Homo sapiens: one gene and its partners. The protein of the gene in region 1 interacts with the protein of each later gene in a pairwise test. Each region holds a gene or a part of one and is shown in the gene's direction. Other genes may lie near its edges. The genes, in order: TMEM248, VSTM1 and YIPF1.

Region 1 (3,750 bases):
CTGGGATTACAGGCACCTGCCAACACGCCCAGCTAATTTTTGTATTTTTGGTAGAGATAAGGTTTCGACATGTTGGCCAGGTTGGTGTTGAACTGCTGACTTCAGGTGATCCTCCCACCTCAGCCTCCCAAAGTGCTGGGATTATAGGCATGAGCCACTATGCCCGACCTTTGCCCTTTTCTGGGGCTCATTTGTAGGCCAGGGTCCTGCAGGAGCCAGCTATGGAGGTCAGGCTGGATGGTGGGCTGAGGCCCTTAGTGCCTGGCCAAGGGCAGTCCCTGCCTGTGTTTGGGGCGTGGGTGTTGGTAAAGCAGTGTGTTGAGAAGACTGAGCTGCCCCGCTATGTTATAAATGACCTGGGGGAGCCCAGAGCTGTCCTGAGGCCTGGAGATACTAGAGGGTAAAGGAATGGAACCATGTCTGGGGTCCCTTTAGTAACTTGCAGGGTCTGGGAATTGACTGCATGTGGGAGGTCAAAGGGTAGTGAATCACGGATGATCTCAGCATTTTCATCCAAGGACTTAGGGAAATAGAGAAAAGCAGGAGGAAGGGCGTGACCCCTGGGGAGGGGTGAGGTGCCGAGGCCTTCCTGGTGGGGGCATAGTCAGGAGTTAGGAATGCAGCCTCGGCTGTCAGCCATGCAACCTGAGGGCAGTCTTGTGACGAGGATGTGTCCAGAAAGGAGTGGGGCTTAAAGATGGAGTGTCTGCAGCATTTGCAGGGGAGGAAGCCTGCTGGAGGGGCAGGGTTCAGGCAGTGTGGGGGTGCAGAAGGCAGGGCAGAGGACAGCGCTAGGAAGGCGTGGTGCTCTCCAACAGAGGCTCGGGAGCACCATGTCTTCACTTAATGAGACCCAGCTTTGGTCATTTAGGAGGCAAAAGGAGAAACCTCCTCTTGCAGCTTAAGAAGAAAAGTTGTGGCAAGTCTGGAGGCTGTCAATCCTGTCTCTCAAAACCCAGCATTAAAACCTTTCAGTCACTCAGAGCAGATGTTTCTGATTTTTTTTCTCTTCTTTATTTAGGATGACCGTTCATTAATAAATTTGCATCTCATGCACACCAGTTACTTCCTCTTTGTGATGGTGATAACAATGTTTTGCTATGCTGTTATCAAGGGCAGACCTAGCAAATTGCGTCAGAGCAATCCTGAATTTTGTCCCGAGAAGGTGAGCGGTGGATGGGGTCCGGGCCAGCATTTTACTAGAGGTCTCTGTATACAGAAAGTCCCAGTTATCCTTATTCTATTTATTGTGGGTGGCACCTTTCGTCTAAAGAAATGACAGTCATCCCTTGGTATCCGAGGAGGATTGGTTCCAGGACCCTGGTGGATATCGAAATTCATGAATGTCCAAATCCCTTCTGTAAAATGGTACAGTATTTGCATATGACCTCTGCACATCCTCTGTAACTTTTTTTTTTGAGATGGAGTCTCGCTCTGTCTCCCAGGCTGGAGTGCAGTGGCACTATCTTGGCTCACTGCAGCCTCCGCCTCCCAGGTTCAAGCAGTTCTCCCACCTCAGCCTCCCGAGGAGCTGGGATTACAGTCGCAAGCCACCGCGTCCCACTAAGTTTTTGCATTTTTAGTAGAGACCGGGTCTCACCATGTTGGCCAGGCTGGTCTCAAACTCCTGACCTCAAGTGATCCACCCGCCTTGGCCTCCCAAAGTGCTGGAATTACAGGTGTGAGCCACTGTGCCCAGCTCATCCTCTGTAACGTTAATCTCTAGATTACTTTCTTTTTTTTTTTTTTTTTTTTTTTTGAGAGAGTTTTGCTCTGTCACCAAGGCTGGAGTGCTGTGGCACGATCTTGGCTCACTGCAACCTCTGCCTCCTGGGCTCAAGTGATTCTCTTGCCTCAGCCTCGAGAGTAGCTGGGATTACAGGCATGTGCCACCACACTCAGCTAATTTTTGTATTTTTAGTAGATACAGGGTTTCACCATGTTGTCCAGGCTAGTCTCGAACTGCTGTTATCAAGTGATCCACCTGCCTTGGCCTCCCAAAGTGCTGGGATCACAGGCGTGAGCCACTGGGCCCAGCTTCTAGGTTACTTATAATACCTAATACAATGTAAATACTATGTAAATAGTTGTTACAGTGTATTTTTAAAACTTGTGTTATTTTTATTGTTGTATTCTTATGTATTGGTTTTTTTTCTTTTGAGTATTTTTGCTTTTTTAATTTTTTTTTTTTTTTTTTTTGAGACAGGGTCTCACTTTGTCACCCAGGCTGGAGTAGAGTGGTGCGATCGTAGCTCATGACTCAATCATAGTTCACTGCAGCCTTGACCTCCCAGGCTCAAGCGATCGTCAACCTCCTGAGTAGCTGGGACCACAGGCATGCATCACCACACCTGGTTAATTTTTGTATTTTTTGAAAAGACAGGGTTTCGCCACATTGCCTAGGCTGGTCTTGAATTCCTGGGCTCAAGCAATCCACCCACATTGGCCTCTCAAAGATTACAGGTGATTACAGGTGTGAGCTACCATGCCCAGCCCTCTTTTGTGTATTTTTGGTTGAATCTGTGGATATGAAACCCACAATTACAGAAGGCCAGCGGTAGTTTCTGTCTTCATTAGAAGTGTCTTTACTCTCAACCTAAATTATGTTGTTGGATTTTTAATCATATACCCAAGCCTCTGTTGCTATTAAAGGGAGTGACTTGGCAGTTGTTCTCAAGTCTCCACTGGAGCACTACTGACTCTGGGTAGCTGCCTCCTCTGTAGTTCCATCAGCATAAGAAGTCTTCTAACAGAATGCTTATCAAGGTTTAAAGACAGTTACCTCAGCTAGGTGGACCTGTAATCCCAGGACTTTTAGGAGGCTGAGGCAGAAGGATCACTTGAGCCCACGAGTTCAAGACCAGCCTGGGCAACATAGTGAGAACCCTTCTCTACTAACAGTTAAAAAATTAGCCAGATGTAATGGTGCATGCCTGTATTCCCAGCTACTGGGGAGGTTGAGGAAGGAGAATTGCTTGAGCCCAGAAGTTGGAAGCTGCAGTAACCTACGATTGCACCACTGCACTCCAGCCTGGACAACAGAGCGAGACCGTGTCTCAAAAAAACAAAAACCAGTTAATTCTGTCTCCGCACAGTGGTTCCAGATGGGCCGCGTCTTGCAGGAGACTTTGAGATTTCTAGTAATTTCTTCCTAGGTGAGATTTTCTTTTTAGGGATTTAGTAACTTCACTGTCTGGTTGATATGTGCAATTAGTGTGGCATCCTGGTCTTTGGGTAGGGGCTGAGTTACCTAGGCTTCCCTTTTTTGACTGGTTTCCCTGGCTTGCTGTCTTCCAGGTGGCTTTGGCTGAAGCCTAATTCCACAGCTCCTTGTTTTTTGAGAGAGACTGAGAGAACCATAATCCTTGCCTGCTGAACCCAGCCTGGGCCTGGATGCTCTGTGAATACATTATCTTGCGATGTTGGGTTATTCCAGCCAAAGACATTTCAAGTGCCTGTAACTGATTTGTACATATTTATAAAAATCTATTCAGAAATTGGTCCAATAATGCACGTGCTTTGCCCTGGGTACAGCCAGAGCCCTTCAACCCCACCTTGGACTTGAGGACCTACCTGATGGGACGTTTCCACGTGTCTCTAGAGAAGGATTCCTGGATCTAGCTGGTCACGACGATGTTTTCACCAAGGTCACAGGAGCATTGCGTCGCTGATGGGGTTGAAGTTTGGTTTGGTTCTTGTTTCAGCCCAATATGTAGAGAACATTTGAAACAGTCTGCACCTTTGATACGG
Region 2 (3,750 bases), on another chromosome or scaffold:
TCTTTTTTTTTGATGGAGTCTTGCTCTGTGACCCAGGCTGGAGTGCAGTGGCGTGATCTCAGCTCACTGCAACCTCCGCCTCCCGGGTTCAAGCGATTCTCCTGCCTCAGCCTCCTGAGTAGCTGGGACTATGGGCGTGTGCCACCACGCCCGGCTAATGTATCCATCATCATAACACACAACCATTTGAATGAATCTCACAGGCATTGTGCTGAGTGAAAAAGGTCACCCTCAGAAGGTGAGGCGATGGACGATTCCATTTATACAAGAGTCTCAAAGTGACAAAGTGATAGAGACGTAGAACAGATTAGCAGGTGCTAGGGTGGGAGAGCGATTATAAAGGGGCAGCATGAGGGAGTTCCTACGTGGTGGTGGGACAGTTCTGTGTCTTGATTGTGGCGGTGGTTCTATAAAGCCATACATACAGGCAATAAAATGTTACAGAACTATACCCATAGGCAAAGAAAAGGGAGGAGGAAAAGAAGGTGGAAGAGGAGGAAGAGCAGGAGAAAAGAAGGAAAAGGAGAAAAGGAAATAGAAATAGAAGGAAGAGGAAGAGAAAAAGAGAAACGAATTATGCACAAACTGGTGAGATCTGAGTGACCTCTGGAACCTGGTTAAACGTGTGATGCCAGTGCAAAGTCTCTGGTTTTGAAAATGTGCCATACGCCGGGCGTGGTGGCTCACGCCTGTAATCCCAGCAGTTTGGGAGGCCGAGGCAGGCGGATCGCCTGAGGTCAGAAGTTCGAGACCAGCCTGGGCAACATGGCAAAACCTCGTTTCTACTAAAAAGAACAAAAAAAATTAGCCAAGAGTGGTGGCGGACACCTGTCATCCCGGCAACTCGGGAGGCTGAGGCAGGAGAATCGCTTGAACCCGGGAGGCAGAGGTTGCAGTGAGCCAAGATTGTGCCACTGCACTCCAGCCTGGCTGACAGAGATTCTGTCTCAAAAAAAAAAAAAAAAAAAAAAAGTACTGTAATTATAAGAGATTACCATTGGCCGGGCACAGTGGCTTATGCCTGTAATCCCAGCACTTTGGGAGGCTGAGGTGGGCGGGTCACTAGAGACCAGGAGTTCAAGACCAGCCTGGCCCACATGGTGAAATCCCATCTCTACAAAAAATTAGCTGGGTGTGGTGGTGCATGCTTGTAATCCCAGCTACTTGGGAGTCTGAGGCAGGAGAATCCTTAAACCCATGAGGCAGAGGTTGCAGTGAGCCGAGATCGCGCCACTGCACTCCAGCCTGGGTGACAGAGCAAGACTCTGTCCCCCCCGCCCCCCAAAAAAAGGTTAACATTGTGGGGAGCTGGCTAGTGGGTACACGGAAGCTATAAAGCTATAGGTATTAATGTTTGTTTGTTTGCTTGTTTGAGACAGTTTCACCGTTGTTGTCCAGGCTGGAGTGCAGTGGCACAATCTTGGCTCACAGCAACCTCCGCCTCCTGGGTTCAAGCCATTCTCCTGTCTCAGCCTCCGGAGTAGCTGGGATTACAGGCATGCGCCACCATGCCTGGCTAATTTTGTATTTTTAGTAGAGACGGGGGTTTCTCCATTTTGGTCAGGCTGGTCTTGAACTCCCGACCTCAGGTGATCCGCCCGCCTCAGCCTCTCAAGGTGCTGGGATTACAGGCGTGAGCCACCGCGTCCGGCCGGTATTAGTGTTTTAAAATAAAAAATTACATTTACAGAAAACTCTTGGCAGAACTTCAGATAAGGTAGGACAGAGCTCGGGCGGGTGGGGCCACACACACCGGATTCATGGGGAAGAAGTTATCATCGACGGCTTCTTGTTTCCTGAGTCGGTTGTGAGAAGGAAACTGCAAGAGTGGGGCAGAGAACCAGAGTGTCAGAGCAAAACCTCCTCTATCTGCACATCCTGGGGACGAACCGGGCAGCCGGAGAGCTGCGGCCGGCCCAGTCCCGCTCCGCCTTTGAAGGGTAAAACCCAAGGCGGGGCCTTGGTTCTGGCAGAAGGGACGCTATGACCGCAGAATTCCTCTCCCTGCTTTGCCTCGGTGAGTCTCCAGGACTGGGACGAATGGGCTTGGGCTGGTGAGAAAAACTCATGTGGGAGTGGCAGTCCAGGTGGAAATGCGGTGTGTGGAAGTAATGACTTCCAGGTGTTGCACACCTGCGGTGGGTGGGTCTGGGCTGTGGGTTCTGTGAGTTCTGCCGCCCACATGCAAGCGAGGAGGAGGCCGCGCTGCAGAGACACGGGGACAGACTCCGCTGGGAAAGGCAGAGCTGCTGTGGGGTCTCCGAGTCTGCAGCCGCTAAATACCGCAGTACTGCCATCATCCTCCGTCGGAATAGAGGAGGGCTGGGCTTAGGGATCTACAGGGTGCAAGGCTGTGGGCAAAAAGACAATTTTCTTCTCTCTCTCTCTTATTTATTTATTTATGTATGTATGCATTTATTTATGAGACAGAGTCTCACTCTGTAGCCCAGGCTGGAGTGCAATGGCGTGATCTGGGCTCACTGCAACCTCCGTCTCCCAGGTTCAAGCGATTCTCCTGCCTCAGCCTCCCGAGTAGGTGGGACTACAGGTGCAGGCCACCACACCCGGCTGACTTTTGTATTTTAAGTAGAGACGGGGTTTCACCATGTTGGTCAGGCTGGTCTCGAGCCCCTGACCTCAGGTGATCCGCCCGCCTCAGCCTCCCAAAGTGCTGGGATTACAGGCGTGAGCCACCACACCTGGCCCCAAGAAGACAATTTTCTGACCAGCTCGATTCTTAGGCTGATTTTAACCATCCTCCAATTGAACCTGATGTATTCAGACAGAGCTCACACTGTGAAACGGATGACCTGGGTTATAATCTCGGCTTTACTACATAGAAACTCTAGGCTTGACCCAGCAGAGCTCCACCTCCCTAAGGCCCCAGTTCCTCCCTGGTGCACGGGGGGTGCGGTGGACATCGACGTGCTTCGTCTGCTTCAGTTCCTTCCTCCTTTTCTGGGTGCAGCCCTTCCTTGTGGGGTAATGCTCGTCTCCTACACACATTTGCACCTTAGATGAGCATTTTTTTTTTTTTTTGACAGAGTCTTGCTTTGTCTCCCAGGCTGGAGTGCAGTGGTGTGATCTCAGCTCACTGCAACCTCCACCTCCTGGGTTCAAGCGATTCTCCTGCCTCCGCCTCCCGAGAAGCTGGGATTATAGGCACACGCCACCACGCCTGGCTAATTTTTTGTGTTTTTAGTAGAGATGGGGTTTCACCATGTTGGCCAGGCTGGTCTCAAACTCCTGAACTCAGGTGATCTACCCACTTCAACCTCCTAAAGTGCTGGGATTACAGGTGTGAGCCACTGCACCCGGCTATTTGTGCCTTAGAGATGACTATCGGGTTCATACCCAAGCCTCCAGCTGCTGAGCACAGTAAGCTGGGCAACCAGGAGACTGACCTCATCCCCCAATGGCTGCCATACCAAAGTACTACAAGCCTGGTGGCTTAAAGGAATTAGAATTGCTTTAAGTTGGGGAGATGAGAAGTCTGAAACCAAGGTGTTTGCAATGTTGATTCCTTCTGAGAACTATGAAGGAGCGTCTGTTTTATGCCCCTCTTCTAGTGATGGCTGACAATTCTTGGCATTTTTTTTTTTTCTTGAGGCGGAGTCTTGCTCTGTCACCCAGGCTAGAGTGCAGTGGCATGATCTTTCTCACTGCAACCTCCACCTCCTGGGTTCAATCAATTCTCCTGCCTTAGCCTCCCAAGTAGCTGGGATTACAAGCATGGACCACCATGCCTGG
Region 3 (3,750 bases), on another chromosome or scaffold:
TTTTTTGTTTGTTGTTGGTTTTTTTTGCCACTCTTATGTGTGGTCACTCAGAATAATACTGTGAGATTTAGTCCTTGTCTACAGCAGAAAGCTTTCAGTCTAGTGAGTAAAGAGGCAGTTTGTGGAGAGCTAATATTGGTGACTTTTTGAAGCATACCCATTTGATTGCTTGTGTTCCTTTTCCCACCTTCAGGGGCCAGTGCTTGCCTTTGAAAAGTACTAATCTGTTTCTGCTAGTCATCTCACCTATGACAGTAATGTTCGTAATTTTGTGACGTGTCAAGGTACCTGAAATTATCCCAAAGGGTGTTGCAAAATATTAGTGAAATTGAAAAATGAAATTCATACAATTTATTAAAATCTCTCAATCTAAAGATAGTATTTGTTCTACATAGTACTTTTTCTAGATGGGGAGAGACAAGGATAGTGTTCACGAAATCATGCAAATAATGAAAGAGGTTTGTAAAGCATGGTCCACTCATCTGCTCAGTGGTATATCTTAAAACCATTGAAAAAGAACAAGCTGATTTTTATGAGTAGCTGTGATAGACTCACCAGGCTATATTAAGGTGAAAATAGAAGGGTACACAGGAGGACATATATGTATGTTATCATCTGTATAAAATATGCACATATACACATGCATTTGCTTATATACATGAGTGGAATATTCCTAGCAGGTTTCATCAGAAACTGCTTACTTTGGTGAGCTTTAGGGAGGAAAGATAGAGAGCCGGGGCACAGAGAGGGAGTGGATCTTGCTGTTCTCCATATTCCCTTTGTACCTTTTGAAACACTGGACCATATACATATATTACTTTTTTTAATTTTTAATTTTAATTTTTGTGGGTAGACAGTAGGTGTATATAGTGCATTGTATTACTTTTTCATTAAAAAAAAAAAGAAAAAGCCTTAAGCACACACACACACACACACACACACTGACACTCAACACAACCGTGGTGAACTGGTAGGTTTAATCGACTCTGCCCTCATGTGTTCTGTTTGCCCTGCTCTTTCTGTATGCTGCACAAGCTCTGTCTGATTTAACTTCTTTCTCTGTGATGCTAACATTTGGCACTTAGATAAGCGAAGTAATCTTTACTTCATGTATTCTGGTGGAAGGTTTAATAAAAAGCCTGTGAATTTTTCTTTGTCGGTGGTGATCCTCCAACAAAAGAAGCTATACAGAAATCAGTGTCTTCATTCACCTAATTGTGGAAGGCGTTTTGGCCTTTGGATTGGAGTACCAACACCCCACCTTCTTTAAGGCAGCTAATTACTGAGATGTGTGTTTGACCTTTGAAAAAAAAATTTCCCTTCAGCAAGTGTTGATCCCATCTAGAAAATTCATTTTCTTTTGCTAACATGAATACAAGAGGAAGATAAGAAATTCTGTAAGAATCTAAAGGCTTATGCTTCATTTTCTTGTTTCTGAATTTTCTGGTTTCCTTTGCAGGCCCCTTTTGGATATGTGCCACGTTGGTCTTTGCCATAGCAATTAGTGGGAATCTTTCCAACTTCTTGATCCATCTGGGAGAGAAGACGTACCATTATGTGCCCGAATTCCGAAAAGGTTGGTGAATAGCTTGACTCATTTGGAATGCTGTCAGTTTCTAGCTTTGAGTTCTTTTTACCCACTGAGCTCCTGGGCCCCATCTCTAGATGCTGCAGCCCTGCTTTTGTGTTTTAGGGTTCAATGTATCTACTCAAATGTGTAGATGAGTTTACCACCCATCTATATAAATCCACATAATCTTTTTCTTCTTACAGTGGTAAAATATATATTACATAAAATTTACCATTTAAATGTGTAATTCAATGGCATTAAGTACATTCACAATGTTATGAGTCCACATAATCTTTGGGAAAGCTGTAAATCAAGGCCGAATAGCAACTGCAGTTTATTCCTTTTTTTTTTTTTTTTTTTTTTTTGAGACAGTGACTCGCTCTGTCACCCAGGCTGGAGTGCAGTGGTACGATCACAGCTCACTGCAGCCTCCACCTCCCTGGGCTCAAGTAATCCTCCCACCTCAGCCTCCTGAGTAGCTGGGACCATAGGCATGCAACACCATACCTGGCTAATTTTTCTATTTTTTTATAGAGATAGGTCTCCCTGTGTTGCCCAGGCTGATCTCAAACTCTTGGGCTCAAGTGATTCTCCCATCTTGGCCTCCCGAGGTGCTAGGTAGGATTACAGGTGTGAGCCATCACACCTGGCCACAGCTGGAATATATTCTAAGACAAGTGTACAAAATAATTTAAAGGTGTGTGTGAAGGTCTCCTGTGTGGCATTATTTGTATTATCCACATTTTGGAGACAATAGAAACATTGTTTTAGGCTGTGATGGCTCAACTAGCTGGGGTCATCTGCAATTGCCAGTCACAAAGCACCTAGAGCTATGTGGAAAATTCATAACTTATTCCAAACTGGTGCCTATTCTGTTAGCAACTTTGCTGAAGAGAAATCTGGGCTGGACATGGTTGCTCATGCCTGTCATCCCAGCACTTTGGGAGGCCAAGGTGGGAGGATTGCTTGAGCTGAGGAGTTTGAGATCAGCCTGGGCAACATAGTGAGACCTTGTCTCTAAAACTAAAAACTAAAAAAAAGTTACCGGGTATGGTGGTGCATGCCTGTAGTCCCAGCTACTCAGGAGGCTGAGTTGGGAGGATGACTTGAGCCCAGAGATTGAGGCTGTAGTGAGCTGTGATCGTACCACTGCACTCCAGCCTGGGTGACAGAGCGAGTCACTGTCTCAAAAAAAAAAAAAAAAAAAAAAAAAAAAAGAGACCCGGTGCGGTGGCTCAAGCCTGTAATCCCAGCACTTTGGGAGGCCAAGGTGGGTGGATCACAAGGTCAGGAGTTCGAGACCAGTCTGACCAACATGGTGAAACCCGTCTCTACTAAAAATAAAAAATTATCCAGGCATGGTGGCGCATGCCTGTAATCAGGAGGCTGAGGCAGGAGAATTGGTTGAACCCAGGAGGCGGAGGTTGCAGTGAGCCGAGATCACGCTACTGCACTCTAGCCTGGGCAACAGAGAGAGACTCTGTCTCAAAAAAAAAAAAAAAAAAGCGGGGAGAAAGAAGTCTGCAAATGATCAAAGCCTGGAAGGGAAAATGCAGAAATGAATGTGTCCTAGGGATGGGCTTGTGAATGACATTCTTGTTTTAAAACGTCCTTTCTTATGTCAGTATTGGGTATTTAGAAGAAAAAACAAAACAGCTTTTAGAGACTTGCAGATGACAGCTGCCCCCAAATGAGGAAGTTTGGCTTTGTCGGAGATTGGCCTGTACCACTTTCTCAGTTCCCTCGCTCTCTCCCTGCCTGCTCTGCTGTCGAGAGGCTGTAAGTAGCCTGGATAAGAGCACCAGTTCTGGAACTAGACTGCTAGCTTCAGTTCCAGCTCCACCACTCACTAGCTTCTACTCTGTTGGGCAAGCTATTTTATGTCTGAGCCTCAGATTCTTCATTGGTGAAATGGAAATAATAATATTTATCTTACAGGACTATTGTAAGAATAAAGAGTTAATATATATAAAAAGCTTAGAATAGTGGTTTGTACCAAAAAGAGTTCAATAAACATTAACTATTACTATACACACACACACACACAAAAATATGTGCACATATATTCAATCCCATTATTTATCCAGTAACCTTGGTTTGAGTTTAATGCAATAAATGTTAACCATGAGATAGAAACCCTGCCTTCAGCTAGTTCACTGTGTGTACATAGAAAGATATGT

Evidence for each region.
Region 2: the proteins of TMEM248 (region 1) and VSTM1 interact in binary tests that used the Homo sapiens proteins (3 or more experiments, as listed by UniProt).
Region 3: the proteins of TMEM248 (region 1) and YIPF1 interact in binary tests that used the Homo sapiens proteins (3 or more experiments, as listed by UniProt).

Annotation. Positions count from the first base shown.
Region 1 is NC_000007.14:66,952,205-66,955,954, forward strand, and holds part of TMEM248 (transmembrane protein 248), read left to right. Parts: intron 1-1,021; coding exon 1,022-1,165; intron 1,166-3,297; coding exon 3,298-3,318; 3' UTR 3,319-3,750.
Region 2 is NC_000019.10:54,062,011-54,065,760, reverse strand, and holds the start of VSTM1 (V-set and transmembrane domain-containing protein 1 isoform 1 precursor), read left to right. Parts: upstream 1-1,863; 5' UTR 1,864-1,983; coding exon 1,984-2,017; intron 2,018-3,750.
Region 3 is NC_000001.11:53,869,198-53,872,947, reverse strand, and holds part of YIPF1 (protein YIPF1), read left to right. Parts: intron 1-1,459; coding exon 1,460-1,576; intron 1,577-3,750.